3 separate regions of the Homo sapiens genome follow, and regions 1 and 2 are each linked to region 3. Evidence: fine-mapped expression QTL. A gene starts in region 3. Each other region holds a variant in brackets. All regions are shown on one strand. Distances are from middle to middle. Region 1 overlaps NPHP3-AS1 (NPHP3 antisense RNA 1). Region 2 overlaps NPHP3 (nephrocystin 3). Region 3 holds the start of NPHP3 (nephrocystin 3).

The links. PIP is the estimated chance that this variant, and not a neighbour inherited with it, causes the effect.
Region 1: its variant is fine-mapped to the expression of NPHP3 in unexposed skin (GTEx, PIP 0.94).
Region 2: its variant is fine-mapped to the expression of NPHP3 in tibial nerve (GTEx, PIP 0.98).

The regions. Positions count from the first base shown.
Region 1 is chr3:132,823,836-132,830,563 of GRCh38, forward strand. It overlaps NPHP3-AS1 (NPHP3 antisense RNA 1), which reads left to right. Exons shown (of 11, transcript NR_002811.2): 9 at 4,111-4,171. Among named protein-coding and RNA genes, the nearest start is that of NPHP3-ACAD11, 100 kb to the left of the region's middle. The variant G/A (reference allele first, on the strand shown) is at 3,298.
Region 2 is chr3:132,694,876-132,699,875 of GRCh38, forward strand. NPHP3 (nephrocystin 3) reads right to left here. Exons shown (of 27, transcript NM_153240.5): 13 at 4,478-4,575; 14 at 2,385-2,487; 15 at 1,856-1,938; 16 at 1-90. It overlaps NPHP3-ACAD11 (NPHP3-ACAD11 readthrough (NMD candidate)), which reads right to left. Exons shown (of 45, transcript NR_037804.1): 13 at 2,385-2,487; 14 at 1,856-1,938; 15 at 1-90. Among named protein-coding and RNA genes, the nearest start is that of NPHP3-AS1, 24 kb to the right of the region's middle. The variant T/TACTC (reference allele first, on the strand shown) is at 2,651.
Region 3 is chr3:132,719,588-132,724,587 of GRCh38, forward strand. It overlaps NPHP3 (nephrocystin 3), which reads right to left and starts at 2,822. Exons shown (of 27, transcript NM_153240.5): 1 at 2,376-2,822; 2 at 118-243. The coding sequence starts at 2,768. NPHP3-ACAD11 (NPHP3-ACAD11 readthrough (NMD candidate)) reads right to left here and starts at 2,872. Exons shown (of 45, transcript NR_037804.1): 1 at 2,376-2,872; 2 at 118-243. NPHP3-AS1 (NPHP3 antisense RNA 1) reads left to right here and starts at 2,163. Exons shown (of 11, transcript NR_002811.2): 1 at 2,163-2,792. RefSeq lists silencers at 2,479-2,728, 2,829-3,338 and an enhancer at 3,579-3,768.

The DNA.
Region 1 (6,728 bases), 110 kb after region 3:
AGAAGCTTTTCTCAGTTTGGTGAAGGTGTGCGTGTGTATGTATATATCTGAGCATATAACTGCATTACAAAGCTAGTTCTAGTAATTATTTAGTTATCCACATAAAAAGACAGACAGATTACCTAAAAATAATGTATTTTTGATATTGAGATACACCCACTCCCATATTTACTGACAGTCAAAACTCTTCTCTTCTATTCCTAGCTCCAAGTTTCTTCCAACTTGATACTTCTTTTATAACCTAGAATCCTGTGGTATGATGGTGGGGAAGAGATCTTGGGAAGTCCACAAAGCAAATAAACTAGTTTAAGAGTTAAATTGTAATTATCTGCTGCTTGACATAATTCACATTTTATTCCCATCAAATAATTAAGGATTGATTGAATTGATAATGATGATATAATATGATTTCTTTTTACTTTAAAAACCTGTTCAGTTTGAAACATTGTCAAAATGGCTATCAGGAGAATTTAGGGGGTTAAAAGAGAAGGGGGTTAGAAAAACACCTTCTTAAGTGAAGCTGGCCCCCCTCCAAATTCTAGTGTCTCATGATCATGGAGAGGAATTCTGATGACCATTTCCATAATCAATGTCTTGAGGAGGAATTTATTTTTTAGCCCGGGAAGATAGGATCCTATCAGAATCTCAAAGGTATGAGAATGTTACAAGAGAGCTTTGGAAAAGGGGTGTCCCTAAAATTTGGCCACCCATCAGGGATGCAGAAATTGGGTTTCAACTCATTTGATAGCATGCTTCAAATTATTTTTATCCTATTATTGCTCCTTTCTTTGTAACCAGTAGATACCATGTGGATTCTGGCTTCTTTATCCTTTTGCAAGCACAGGCAAAAATTAGAGAAAACTCGGAATTACCCCTTTTCTTGTGGTTGCGTTATATGAGTAATTATCCATCATGAAATCCCTTCAACCTTCTGTTCAGTTTTGATCACTTTATTTCCTTTGGTGAATCATAAGAACCATGATTGCACATATGTTCTTTTTTAAATCTTTAATTAATACTCCAGTTGGATAAAGAATTTGAGAAATTGATTACCTTAATTTGAACTATTTTGGTTGCAAATGATAGAAAGCCAAGTAACAGTGGTTGGAGCAGAGATGCTGTGGTGTCTCAAAGATCTCAAGAGCAGAAGTGGGGCTGGGCTGCCAATGTTCAGCAGACCTCTGACTTCACCTTTTGCCTTTCTGTGTCTTTATCTTTATTTTGTACTTCATTTCTTTCTTTCTCACTCTCTCAACTGGCATACTCTGCTCACATGGGAAGGAAACATGGCTGTTAACAGAACCTATCTGAGTTTTTCATTTATAATTTCAGTCACCTGGGAAGAGATTGACCTTCCTTGTTTTCAATGGCCAAATCCCTGGTGAAGGACCCTAAGTGGTCAGCTTGGATACTATGCTTACCCTAGAACCAATCTGCTAGCCAGGACAGGTCATGGGAGGTGATTGGCCTACATATCTTCTCCTGGACCAATTAACTGAAGCCAGGGACACTTTGTGCAAGATGATTAGTCTAGAGTTTACCATCTTGATAGAGTGGGGCAGAGGATGGGAAGGGGTGATTTCCAGAAGAAAGTAGTGGAGGAGTACAGGTGGCTGTATGTAGTTTAGCAAAAATAGTTCATTACATTGATCTGAAGGAATTAGAATCTTATAGTCCATAAGGTAAATTTTACATAAAATATCACATGCCTCTGGTGCTGTGAGTTCCTTTAGAAAAAGTGTTTTTTTTTCTTTCGATTTACTAATTTATTTTTTATTTCCATAGGTTTTTGGGGAACAGGTGGTGTTTGGTTACGTGAATAAGTTCTTCAGTGGTGATTTCTGAGATTTTGGTGCACCCATCACCCGAGGAATTGCCTGCTGCTTGAGATACACTGTACCCAGTCTGTAGGCTTTTATCCCTCACCCCCTCTTACCCTTTTCCCCAAGCCCGCAAAGTCCATTATATCATTCTTATGCCTTTGCATCCTCATAGCTTAGCTCCAACTTATAAGTGAGAAGATACGATGTTTGGTTTTCCATTCCTGAGTTACTTCACTTAGAATAATGGTCTCCAACTCCATCCAGGTTGCTGTGAATGCCATTATTTCATTCCTTTTTATGGCTGAATAGTACTCCATGGTATGTGTGTGTGTGTGTGTGTGTGTGTGTGTGTATGTGTGTATATATATGTGTGTGTGTGTGTATATGTGTGTGTGTGTGTGTGTGTGTGTATATCTCACAATTCCTTTATCCACTCATTGATTGATGGGAATTTGGGCTGGTTCCATATTTTTGCAGTTGCAAATTGTGTTGCTATAAACGTGTGTGTGCAAGTATCTTTTTCGTACAATGACTTCTTTTCCTTTGAGTAGATACCCAGCAGTGGGATTGCTGCATCAAATGGTAGTTCTACTTTTAGTTCATTAAGGAATCTCCACACTGTTTTCCACAGCGGTTGTACTAGTTTACATTCCCAGCAGTGTGAAAGTGTTCCCCTTTCACTGCATTGCTGCCAACATCTATTTTTTTTTTTTTTTTTACCTTTCGATTATGGCCATTCTTAAAGGAGTGAGGTGGTATCGCATTGTGGTTTTGATTTGCATTTCCCTGATCATTAGTGATGTTGAGCATTTTTCCATATGCTTGTTGGCCATTTGTATATCTTCTTTTGAGAATTGTCTATTCGTGTCCTTAGCCCATTTTTTGATGGGATTTTTTTTTTCTTGGTAATTTGTTTGGGTTCCCTGTAGAGTCTGGATATTAGTCCTTTGTCGGATATATAGATTGTGAAGATTTTCTCTCACTCTGTGGGTTGTCTGTTTACTCTGCTGATTGTTTCTTTTGCTTTTTAGAGACATTTTAGTTTAAGTCCCATCTATTTATCATTGTTTTTGTTGCATTTACTTTGGGGTTCTTGGTCATGAAGTTTTTGCCTAAGCCAATGTCTAGAAGGGTTTTTTTGATGTTCTAGAATTTTTATGGTTTCAAGTCATTCTTCACAGAACTAGAAAAGACAATCCTAAAATTCATATGGAACCAAAAAAGAGCCCACATAGCCAAAGTGAAAAGAACAAACCTGGAGGCATCATATTAACTGACTTCAAACTATGCTATAAGTCCATAGTCACCGAAACAGCATGGTGACTATAGTATAAAAATAGGCACATAAACCAATGGAACAGAATAGAGGACCCAGAAATAAAGCCAAATACTTACAGCTAACTGATCTTTGATAAAGCAAACAAAAACATAAAGTGAGGAAAGGACACCCTATTCAACAAATGGTGCTAGGATA[G/A]TTGGCAAGCCACATGAAGAAGAATGAATCTGGATCGTTTTCTCTCACCTTATACAAAAGTCAACTCGAGATGGATTAAGGACTTAAATCTAATAGTGGTGTTTTAAAATATTAATATCTAGTTCCTGATTATGTCATGGATAAAGGTGATATAACAATTCAGTAAAAACATCCAGTGGTATTAGAAGTATGTGAATGTTGCAATGTTGATAGCAATGAAAATGAAACATCAAATCATTGTAATTTGGTTTCATTTGCTCAGCTACTAAAATGCCTTTTCAATTAAATGTGTATTTATTTTTATTTGCTATTAATTATGCAAATAATAAGTGATTAAGCAGCCATACTCTGGAAATATTTTGCTTGGTTTGATATTTTTAACTTTGCCATGTACTGGCTGTACAGCCTTGGAAAAATTACATGTGTCCCAAATTGCTTATCTGTAATTGGGATAATAATTTTGTCTTCTCAGTAAGGTTATTGTGAGATAAAATTAGGTAATACAAGTAAAGTGCTTAGAATAGTGCCCAAAATGTAGTCAGTATTCAATAAATGTTAGCTATTGTTATTATTAGTATACTTGTTGGGCATTATGACTTTCAAGATTATAAATGAACGGTAAAAAATGAACTTTCTTATATACCTTTTAACATTTCACTGAAATGCTCACTTAAAATAGGCTCTTTGTGAAAAGTTTGTAAGTTCCATCACATAAAAATACAAAGTCAAGGTTACTGGTCATGCTTTGAAGACCTAAGCCACAGTCTGCTCTAGGTATTCATTAAAACTTTTCCCAAATGTTCTATTTCACAGATGTTCCAGCACTCTTTCCTTCAGAGCACGTAGTAGGATTTTATTTTCTACACCTTCCATGGTAAGTGTGGCTGTGTGACTTGCTTTGGCCAATGATTCATAATATATCTGGATAGAGTCAAAGTATGTTTTGCCACATTCTCTTTTCCTCTACTATGACAACTGACCACCTCTAAGATCAGCCTTCTCCAGTAGCCTGAATCTCTCACTGAGAATGACAACTCACAATGGCTTTGAGGCATGATCAGCAAAGAAATTTTTTGTGTTTTAAATCACCGAGATTTTGCTATCTTCAATTCCAGTGGATCTAAGGCCCTTCAAATAAGGCCTCTAAAAAGAGGGTATCTTCAGGCATTGAGTGTGGCTAGGCTGGTTCTTTTTTGACTACATACAAGAATGAACATCTGTATAATTAGGTTATCAGTTTCAAAGAACATTACTAAGAGCAAACGTTCGAATGCAGGATAAAAACACCCACATTTTGTGTAACAATGCTGTTATTATTTAAAACTCTGGCATCAATTTAAAATTTATATTAAAGTAATAAATTTCTAACCCATCCTCATAGAAGCAGATCTCATTTTTAAGGCTGCCATCTCCTTTTGCCTTGTAAGGCCCATATACACATCATTCCAACACTTCCTAATGCTGTATTGATAAACTATCTTTCATTGTCCTGTCTAGTTTTAATTATCCATTAAAACCATCTCTTTCTCTTCTCTAATTTATGACACCTAATTTTCTCTATCCAGGAATTTCTATCCAGAAATTCCTTCAGGTTAAGTCATTTTTTAATTTCTTTTACCCATCTTAAAACTTAAGTACAGTTTATTTGTTCCTTGAAAAGAATGTTTTCTGTAATCTCTGGGCAAGGAATGAGTATCCAGTTGGGTTAAGGACCAGTTTCGAACTTGTGGAAATTTGATTTTATTGCAGATAGAGTTTTGCTGTACCATTTCCTCTGCTTCCAGTTGGCCAACAGAATCTTTTTAGTTTTTTTCCTCTGAAATGCTTCTTAAATCCACTCACACTTTTGCATCCCATGGACAGCACCATAGATCAGGTTCTCCTTATCTCTTGCTCATAAATTTCAAGCTACCCTACTGGTTTCCCTGGAACTATTCTCTCATCTACCATCAGAATTACCATTCTGGAAACCAAATTCTAGAAGCTCACTGTCTGCCCAGGGAATTAAATGAACGCTTCAGCATTTATAGTCCCTCTTCCATCTTATATTTTCTCCGCCACCTCGCAGGCTCCCATATCCACAATCCTGTAATGACACACTCTCGCCATTTGCTGCAAATATAGCTCTTCTAGTCCCTGATGCTCTCACCATGAGCTAAAGTATCTTTCTATTCTATCTTGTAATGGTTTGCTGGGGCTGCAATACTAAATACCACAGATGGGAGGCTTAAGCAACAGAAATTTATTTTCCCACAGTCCTGGAAGCTAGAAGTCTAAGATCTAGGTGCCAGCCAAGTTGGCTTCCTCTGCAGCTCCTTTCCTTGGCTCACAAATGACGGCCCTCTCGCTGCCTCTTCACATGGTCGTCACTCTGTGCACGCGCACCCTGGCATGTCGTTTGAGTGTCCTAACCTTCTCTTCTTATAAAGACACCAGTTTGATTGGATTAGGGCCCACCCTATGGGCCTTGTTTTAACTTAATCACCTCTTTATTGGCCCTATCTTCAAATACTGTCATATTTTGAGGTACTGGGGTTAGGGCTTCAACACAGGACTTTGGTGGAAGGAAACAATTCAGCCTATAATATAACCCATTTTCCAACTATTTATCCTTCAATATCTACTTTCCTGGGAAGCTTTCCTTGACTCCTCTAATTACTGACTCCTCGGTGCTCCCATAGCCCTTGGCACTTACCTCTGTTGTCACACTAACTGTACAGTATTGTAATAACTGATGTCACAGATTGGTAAATTTTTTCTTAAAGGGCCAGGTGGTAGATATTTTAGGCTTTACAAGCCAAACAGTCACTGTCATCACATTGCAGCAAAAGGAGTGCAGAGAGTTCTATATGTTCTCGGGTGACCGTATATGGGGGCATCACAAGCCCACAGTAGAGGACTTGTTCTTGGAATTTTACCCTAAGGATGGTAAACTGCATGAAAACATCTTTTGCTATGTATTCATTTACTTCTCATGAAAATCTAGTGCAGCTTAGGGAGTGACAGGACAAATACATTTTGCTACCAGATGCCATTTGGCCACCCATGCCATGGTTTAAGGAGCTGGGTGTTAATAGCAACTCAGATAGCTGTGGGATCCAGAGAAGGTCATTTAATCTCTTGGGAAAATTTTCTTTTTTCCTTTTTTTTTTTTTTTTTTTTTTTGAGGCAGGGTCTTGCTGTATTGCCCATGCTGGAGTGCAGTGGTGCTATCATGGCTCACTGAAGCCTTGACTTCTTGGGCTCAAGGGATTCTTCCCACTGCAGCCTCCCAAGTAGCTGGGACTACAGGTGTGCACCACCACACATGGCTAATTTTTGTATTTTTCTATAGAGACCAGGTTTCACCCTGTTGCTCAGGCTGGCCTTAAACTCCTGGGCTCAGGGGATCCTCCCACCTAGGCCTTCCAAAGTGTCGGGATTGCAGGTGT
Region 2 (5,000 bases), 25 kb before region 3:
GAGTGCAGAACAAGTCTATATAATGAAAGAGTATCTTGACACTGGAAACACTGATGAAGGATTTTATCTAAATTGCCTGCTCTCCCAGCACTGTTGGAATCGAGAAGAGATTTAATTTCTTACAGATTGCCAACATCTGTGAAAATTTTGAGATCGATTAAAAACAACGTGAACTCTATTTTTTGTACTGCAACCAATAACAAATTCAATAAAACATGATAAAGGAAAGTGGTAGTTTTATGGGGCTGCTAGAGTCATTGGGTTTATTTTACTATATATAATTTAATTCAGTGCAATAAACATGCTGAAATCTATTATTTGTTAAGCAATTACTATGCATTATGGAACATAAAAATGAGTCAGACACGGTTCTTATTATCCAGAAGCATGCCACCTACATACAGGAAGCAGGGAAACGATGATAAGTATTGTTAGTTAGCCATGCAAATTAAATTTGTGTGGAGCCAGAATTTTGAAAACACAAGGCTAAAGAAAATCATTAAATAGGGGGGTATGTTTTAAAAGATTACACAATATTTACCAGTTTTTAAAAATAATATAAAGATGTACAAAGAGAAAAAACAAAGGGTCCATAGTCTCTTTAAAATAGGTACTTTCAAAAATAAAAACAGTAAAATACTTTCAATGAACATTATTAAATGTATGAAAAATTACTCACACTCTTGAATCATACTCATTGTATCACTGATGTTCACAGAGGCCAGATGTGTTGCTACAACTAACAGTGGAAAAGGACAGTGGAAATATCACAGGCAGGCTGGGTACAGTGGCTCACATGCTGTAATCCCAGCACTTTGGGAGGCTAAGCAGGTGGATTGCTTGAGCCCAGGAGTTCAAGACCAGCCTGGCAATCATGGCAAAACCCCGCTTATACTAAAAATACAAAAATAAGCCAGGCATGGTGGTGTGCTCTTGTAGTCCCAGCTACTCAAGAGGCTGAGGTGGGAGGATCGCTTGAGTCTGGGAGGCAGAAGTTACAGTGAGCCGAGATCAAGCCTCTGCTCTCCAGCCTGGGCAACAGAGAGTGAGACACTGTCTCAAAAACAAAAACAAAGATGAAATATCATGGGCAATGTAAAGTTTCAGAAGATTTTTTTATTTCAAATTTGGTTCTCAAGATGAGAACATGGAATAAAGAGACAAGAAGTACTAGATTCGGTGTCTGGAAATATGTGTGCTAGAATTGCCATCTATTGCAATGAATAACAAAAAATGTATTAATCTTTTTTTTTTTTACCTCAGATTGAGAAAAGACAAAGTAGAGTGATGCTATACTGAAGAAGAAATAAAAGTAGTAAAACATTCTAACGGTTGAGAATAGATAGAATAGGGTAAAGCTATACTGAGGAAATAAAAGTAGTGATACTCTAATGCTTATCTAAAGGCAGATTACTAATGGATATCTAAAATAGAACTATTTTTATAATTAAAAAGTTTATCAGGACTTGAGAACAGAGACAATTAAAAATTCATATCCATATATCTACCTCCTGATATTCAAAGATACCTGAAATAATATTGTAACCCTCAGTTGTTTCCTTCACTTTCCCAAAGCTAGGGGCCACAAATGAGGGTGAGGATGGCTTTCTTTTGCAACCTCCAATAGGGAACAGATTAGTGTGAAGAAAATTAGACAAATCTATCAAGTTCTGACAATCATGGACAGTAGGCACCTGTAAGCCATGTTCTCACAAATGTTAGTATCACTATTCAAATAAAATCTGAGTGGCTCAACAGACTGGTGTAGTGATCAGTTCTCAGTTTTGCAGGGTGAGAAAGGGTCTGCAGCAAACACAAAACATGCAGAAGATCATGTAAAATAATCACCACTCACCGCGCGATCATTTTGCCGAAAAGGGTGACATAAAGGGCATTGCAGGTTGTAGCAGAACGACAGTGTCGTTCTAGCTTCTTCTCCTGCACCAGTTTACCAAGAAAAACAAAACAGAAATACAAAAACCACCCTGGAATTAAGCGGTCTTTACTACCCAGCCATCAACAAGTACCCCGACAGAAATAACACTATTGCTGCCATCCGTGACATCACAACATGCAGTGGTGGCTCCTCGGCTGTGGGCAGCCTTCCAACTGCAGACCACAGATATGGCCAGTATGAAAATGCTCTTTTGCTTTTAAAATACCTGCTTAATATTATATACTAAAGTCAACCTTAAGACCAAAATCTTTTTATTGCTTCTTTTCTACCTGTCATTAGTTTAAGAGGCAATACATTTACCAAAGTAATTACTAAACTCCAGTTTTCCTTATAACAGATCCCCTATATTGAATTTTAAGTCTCACATAAGATGTTTCATAGGAAAGATGAGAGAGTAAAAGATTGCATCAAAATGAAAAATACACACCTGCTCTTTACTCAATTTAATGTCTACAGAGTGGCATTCTGCAATTATAATAGATTTTGCATCTTTTGGACTTAAGGGATCAAGATGAAGTGTAGGCCACAACCTTTTATGTAAAGAAAAGAAAAATGAAATTTTAATAATACAACAAGAACTGTAATTACCCATAACACAATTTAAAATCCACCACAGGAATTAACACTTTATACTGCTTTTGTAAAATAAGCAAAACTAATGTCTATTAATCATATTAAGTAATTAATATATCT[T/TACTC]ATTCTAATATGTGTATCATTACTTTGAGCAATGAATCACAACAAACAGTGTTATAAAATAAACAGTATATACATTAGATAGTTACATGGTAAAACATTTCTAGTTCTATGTTCCATACTATCAGTAAAACTAAGCATAGGTATGAGTATCTATGAGGAGTGGCATCAGACACAATTATTGTCCACAAGCACTTGTAATGCAACTGAAATTTAACTATTACAATATACATTCTTGATATGGTACTGAAAATTGCATTTGTGGGGGAGTGAAAAAACTTACTCTTTTTATGTATAAAGTACACATAGACACATATATCTATATACACAAGCTGATATACAATATGTGTGTGGTATTAAAATTTCTTGGGGGAGGCAATTACAAATAAAATGTCTAAAATGGCTCCTTATAGGAGCAAAAACAGGTTGAGAAACACTGCTCCATGGGATCCAATTGCTCTACTTTTTTTTTTTTTTGAGGCAGAGTCTCGTACTGTTGCCTAGGCTGGTGTGCAGTAGTGCCATCTCGGCTCACTGCAACCTCTGCCTCCCAGGTTCAAGTGATTCTCCTGTCTCAGCCTCCCAAGTAGCTAGGATTACAGGCGCCCACCACCACGCCTGGCTAATTTTTTATATTTCTAGTAGAGGCGGGGTTTCACTGTTGGCCAGGCTGGTCTTGAACTCCTGACCTCCCGATCCACCCGCCTCGGCCTCCCAAAGTGTTGGGATTACAGGCATGAGCCACTGCGCCCAGCCATTTGTTTGTTTTTTGAGATGGGAGTTTCACTCTTGTCGTCCAGGCTGCAGTGCAGTGGTGCAATCTCAGCTCACTACAACCTCCACCTCCTGGGTTCAAGCGATTCTTCTGCCTTAGCCTCCCGAGTAGATGGGATTACAAGCACCCGCCACCATGCCTGGCTAATTTTTGTATTTTTGGTAGAGATGGGTTTCACCATGTTGGCCAGGTTGGTCTTGAACTCCTGACCTCAGGTGATCCACCCGCCCTGGCCTCCCGAAGTGCTGGGATTACAGATGTGAGCTACCATGCCCGGCCACTCTACTACTTTTTAAAGAACCATTAAAGTGAGCTTGCATTTCAAAATAACAGGTGTCTATTATTCCCAGCCCGGCCCTTTCTCTATTTTCCTCATCTATAAATTTAACTGCCTACTAGACATCGTTACGTGGAGCTACTCAAACTAACCATGATTAAAAACTAAACTCATCACCTTTTCCCCACAACCTGCCTGTCCTTTGTGTTTCCTATTTCAGTTCATGAAGCTACATTAATTAATTTCTCAAGTCAGAAACTCCAGAATCATCCTGGCTCTTTCTTTTCCCTTGCATCCCAGATCTATCTAACCTCCCCCCAAATCCCTTTTTTTTTGGAGACAGGGTCTCCCTCTGTCACCCAGGCTGAAGTGCAGTGGCATGATCTCTGCTCACTGCAACCTCTGCCTCCCAGGTTCAAGCGATTCTCCTGCCTCAGCCTTCCAAGTAGCTGGGATTACAGGCATGCGCCACCATGCCCAGCTAATTTTTGTATTTTTTGTAGAGACAGGGTTTCACCATGTTGGCCAGGCTGGTCTCAAACTGCTGGCCTCAAGTGATCCACCCGCCTTGGCATCCCAAAGTGCTGGGATTACAGGTTCACACCATCTATACAATTCTATAGATTGTATTTTTTTTTCATAAATTCACCCACTTCTCCCCATCCTCACTGCAAGTTACATAAAAAATGTGAAAACCATAAATGCATATTAAAAATCTTTCCTTGTTTGTACTTAAAACATTTCATGTACTCTGAAAGAACTAAAGTTGGCATCGTACCTCCATGCTGGAGGGCATGTTTCTACATTCACAGAAACAATTACTCTTACATTCACTGGCAGTGGATCTATCAGCCATTTCATGTGTTTTTCAACTTGCTTAAAAATATAAAAACAAAATTCAATCTATTAATCAAAATATTTCAAAACAATCCAATAATAGCTCCCCAAATAAAATGAAATTCTCATTAAGTTTATCTTATTAAGGATAAAAATCTTATTTTGGGGTGATTTATTTTAGAATTTTAAAAGAACAAGTAGCAAAACATTATTATCACCAATCTGAACTCTGGACACGTCAGGAAATGTCAAGGCCCTAAAAATATGTCAGAACGAATAGTCTTTGTTAATTGTGTAAATTCAGTTGGTCTTTCTTAATAAGATATTAGTGTCTGTGGGCATACGATATATTTTTTTAATCCATGTTACCTCCCTAGAAATAAAGCAGAAATATAAAAAATAACATCATATTTTCTTCTCACAAACATATAAATGCCTGCTCTAGCTATTACTGAATTTACATC
Region 3 (5,000 bases):
TTCCTGAATCCTACATGACTTACTTCTATTTATTCATCGCATTATATATTATATATACTTTTAGAATATACTATTTTATTCTATGTTGCTTTGGGGGTAAAAATGTAAGGAATTTACCTTGAATTGCCTTTTAACTTTATCTCTGTCATGTTCAAATGTTGCTGCTCTCTCCATTGCTTGGTATTTCGCTTCTAAAGCACTTTCTTTTTCTCGAAGTATCTTCTGATACGTTTTTTGAAGTGCCTAGAATAATTTACCTTGTTATTTCCTAACAAAAATAGTCTTGCTCCTCAATTTTACATTCTTATATATATACATATATATATATATATGTTACGTATCTTAGAATTTTAAGTCTACTTATTATTTTACCAATTATCAGGAACTTCATGTTGCCATTTTATTCAAAACATGATGGAAAAAAACCGCAACCATGCTTGAACTACCACAAATAAAGACCAACATTAAGCTTTCAATGGAAATTAACTTTTTTTGAAACACTGCATCAGCTCTTAAACTTCCTTATGCCTTTTCCATCTTTGTGATAGTAAAAATTACATTTTGTAAGGCTTAACTTGAAGGATAAGTAGTTCTAAGAGACTGTGTGCCTGTTGGCACTATGTCTTATTCATCTCACCATCCCTTGAGCACTTCACAGTGCCTGGTACACTGCAAGTCTCCAGTAAATGTCTGACACAATGAATGAAATAAATATGGATAAGTTTTTTCATGCCTCGATATGTGAGAAAGGAACCAGTATGTTTCACAGGGAATCAGGATTGGTGACATGAGTGACTGTGACACTTGCCAACCCTTATTGCACTCCGCCCTGTTTGGTTTGGCCTTTTCTACCCCCACCTCACAGTTGTTTCCAACGTGCGGTGTCTGTTGGGCAGTGGCTTGGATACATTGAATCAGATATTTGAAATGCACTAGTCCATTTTATACATGCAAGTGCATTAAGGTTGCCCAGTAGGAAAACTGATAAGACAACAGATAAACTGCTACACGGACTTCTTCCCAGACAACGACAATAATTACACAACAGCTAATGAGGGAGTTTAAAAACAAAAACAACAACAACAACAACAACAAAACCTGACTAGAAGAATGTCTAGTCTTGAAGACAGGAGGCTTTTTTTCTTTTAGAAAAATCAGTCTGAGGTATTTATTTCACCCCGACTGTAACGACTCCGGGAACTCTTAGGCTGCCTATAAGTCTCTCCCACAGTAAAGAGTACACAAACGACACAACAACGACCAGAGGGGCCCCAAACTGAGGGCAAAAAGTTTTAGAGATTCGTTCACAGAAAAGCAACCTCTTGCTTTATACTATTTTTTTTTTTTTGATACGGAGTCTCGCTCTGTCACCCAAGCTGGAGTGCAATGGTGCAATCTCGGCTCACTGCAACCTCCGCCTCCCGGGTTCAAGCAATTCTCTTGCCTCAGCCTCCTGAGTAGCTGGGATTACAGGCGCGTGCCACCATGCCCGGCTAATTTTTGTATTTTTAGTAGAGACGGGGTTTCACCATGTTGGCCAGGCTGATCTCGAACTCCTGACCTCAGGTGATCCGTCCGCCTAGGCCTCGAAAAGTGTTGGGATTACAGGCGTGAGCCACCACGCCCGGCTGCTTTACATACTATTTTATTGAATTATAATGGACCTGCTACATGGAGGGCATGCAATAATTGCTTTTAGCGTAAATTAATCAAATGGACTAGGGAAATTTGACTACATCTAGAGAAGGTTTTCAACCATGGTGAGATCAGGAGGCTTCCAGAAATTTTCATGTCAAGACCATTAAAATGCAAGAGCGATGAAACTTTACAAAGAAACCGACACTTGAGCCCCACTTTGGAGACCCACTTAAAATTTTTATGGTGGGGAGGGGGGTGAAACTCCTAGGAAGAGTTTGCTGAGTTGCTTCAACAGATGTCACCAGCCTTCTGAGGGGGTGGGCGCGGGGGCGGCAGTGGAGCTGGAGATTGGCATTTGCCTCCTCAGGACACTTTCCGGCTAATTTCTTCTAGGTGCCTCAATGAATAAACCAGAAATAGAAAAGCGGGGACCAGGCGCGGTGGCTCACTCCTGTAATCCCAGAACTTTAGGAGGCCGAGGCGGGAGGATCATTGAGCCCAGGAGTTCCAGGTTGCAGTGAGCCGCGATCGTGCCACCGCAGCGAGACCCTGTCTCCAAAAAAAGAGACAGAAAAAGGGGAGGGTTAAGGAATCATTTCAGACTCGAAGAGAATATGGCCTCTCAAATTAAAATGGGCAGTTTCCGCCGAACTTTCAAAGCCGCTTGGTTTGGAGAGGGAGCAGGACGGCCGTGCTTCCCAAGGGTCTCCCGGCGTCGCGGCCCAGCCCGGCGTTACCTGCAGTTCGGCCCGCAGCCGCTTGTTCTCCGTGTCCAGCTTGGCCTCGCGGCGGCCCATGGACAACAACTCCTGGTTCTTGCTGACGCGAAAGATCTCGTACTCCTTCCTGAGCCGCTCGTACTCGGCCGCCGCGTACTCCAGCTCTGGCACCGACGAGCCAGTGGACTTGAAGCTGGCCCCCAGCAGCCCGCCCGCGCCCACCCCGCGGGGCAGCGACCCGGGCCCGGCCCCTGCTGCCGCCCCCGCGCCTCGGCGGAACGAGTTGCGCAGCAGGCGGGCCTTGGGCTTCACCTCCACCGGGATCTCGCAGGCCTCGCCGCCGCCCGCCCCGTACGTGTCCTCGATCACTTCCCCGCCCGCGGGGCTCACGAGCGACGAGGCGGTCCCCATGGCGTCCGTTGCCGCTACTACCTAGTGAGTACCAGCAGGACTGGGCAGCGGAACGGAACGGGACGGGGTGGGGCAGAGGAACGGAACGGGACGGGGCGGGGCAGAGGAACGGAACGGGACGGGGCGGGCCAGCGGGATGGAGCGGGGCCGGAGAGCAGGACTGGGCGGAGCAGCGGGACGGGGCGGAGCAGCGGAACGGGGCGAGGCGGGGGAGCGGGATGGGGCGGGGAAACAGGAGGGGCGGGGCAGCAGAACTGGGCGGGGCGGGGGTGCAGGACGGGGCGGGGGAGCAGGACGGGGCGGGGCAGCGGAACGGGGCGGGGCGGGGCCGGAGAGCCGGACGAGGCGAGGCAGCGGAACGGGGCGGGGAGGGAGAGCGGAAGGGGGTGGGGCAACTGGAGGGGCGGGGCAGCGGAACGGGACGGGGCAGCGGAACTGGGGGGATGGGCGAGGGGGACGGGGCGGGGCAGCAGGGCTAGGCGGGACAACAAGAGGGGCCGGGCAAGTGGGGCGGGGCATGTGGGCGGGGCAGGGCAAACGGGGGTGGGTCGAGAAAGCACACAGGGCCAGGCGGGCTAGCAAGAAGGGCGGGGCTAGCAGGAAGGATGGGGGGAGTGGCGACTGTGCAGGACCAGCAGTGGACCGGACGCTGGTGGAGGGGTGCTCCGAACGCTGGTGGAGTGGTGCTCCGACATAGGGCTTCTCTCCGTTGTCTCCGCCCGGCTCGAGGCTCCCTGGCGGGCGTGCCTCACAGGGAGCACAGGCCTGGGTCCCAGCTGCTCTACAAACGCTGCAGCTATTTCTTTCGCTGCCGCCGTGCCTGACCGGAAACTCCTTTCTGGAAGCAGTTGGGAAATCTGAAAAATTTATGGAGTGCCTGCTATGTGCTTCCCGCGATATCTCTCTCTCAGTATGCATGTAGATAGAATGACCAGCAAGGAATAATGCCAGCAAAGAAAGAGCTTTTAGATTTTACAGTCTGAAACCACCAGGGACAATCCTTAGACAAGGTTAAGTTTTTTAACTCATTGCGGCATGGGACATTGGAGACCGCACACCAGTCTCTCCTTCATTCCCTCCATCAAAGTGGCTAGTCATCTCTTCTCTTACCCTTTAGATTTTCTTCAGGAAGTAGTCATACTAGGCCTTTGCATTCTTCAAAATCCAGAGTGTATATACTAATTTCTTCAGGTGGTCTCCTGAGATAAAGGGAAATATTTCCACCATCACAGTACCTTAAGAACTTTCTACCTTTTCAAATCCGTTCTGATTTCTAACTTCAAATTTTTGAATTCTCCATGTGGATCAGGGGTTTAAGGATCATCCACTAGGTTTCTGACTAAACCCTTTGAACATTTTTGCATCTTAGTACCTCCTTTGGAATGGGCCTCAGCTGAACACTTCCATAACTATGCTTGAGTAAGAAGATAAAATAGCCATCACCCATTCTCTCCAACAAATAACCAAACTCACTATGCTAACTTCCTACAGCTTGGGGAGTACATTCAGATTCTACAGTCTGGAACTGAGTGCTCTGAAGCATGCATCTCTCCTTTCCCCACGTCATTTCTATCCAGTGACATGCCTCTAATCCACATTTCTCCACCCTACTTGCGTACTGATCTTAGATTACTATTGGTCAATGCCAAAGTGACCAAATTTCTTAATCCTAAAAAATGACATTATTTCTTCCTGGCTAACACGGTGAAACCCCGTCTCTACTAAAAATACAAAAAAATTAGCCAGGCGTGGTGGCAGGCGCCTGTAGTCCCAGCTACTCGGGAGGCTGAGGCAGCAGAATGGCGTGAACCTGGGAGGCGAAGCTTGCAGCCGAGATGGCGCCACTGCACTCCAGCCTGGGCGACAGAGCGAGACTACGTCTTTAAAAAAAAAAAAAAGACATTATTTCTAACCTCATAACCTGTTTTTCTTCATGCTGAATTTAACCCACGTACTTCAGTCTGCATTTTGAAAGAATAACTTTTAATACAGAAATATAGTGAGAATAAAATATTTGGCAGGTGGCTTATAACTTACTAAAGATGGCCACATTTTTTTTTAATAGTCCTCCCATAGAAAAGACAGCTAAGACAGCTACACAATTTGTGGGACCCAGTGAAAAATGAATATGTAATGCCCCTTATTCAAAAATTATAAATATTTTCAAGATGGCTACAGCAGAGCATTAAGCCAAGTATGGGGCCCTTTTGAGTTTTGGGCCCTGCGTTACTG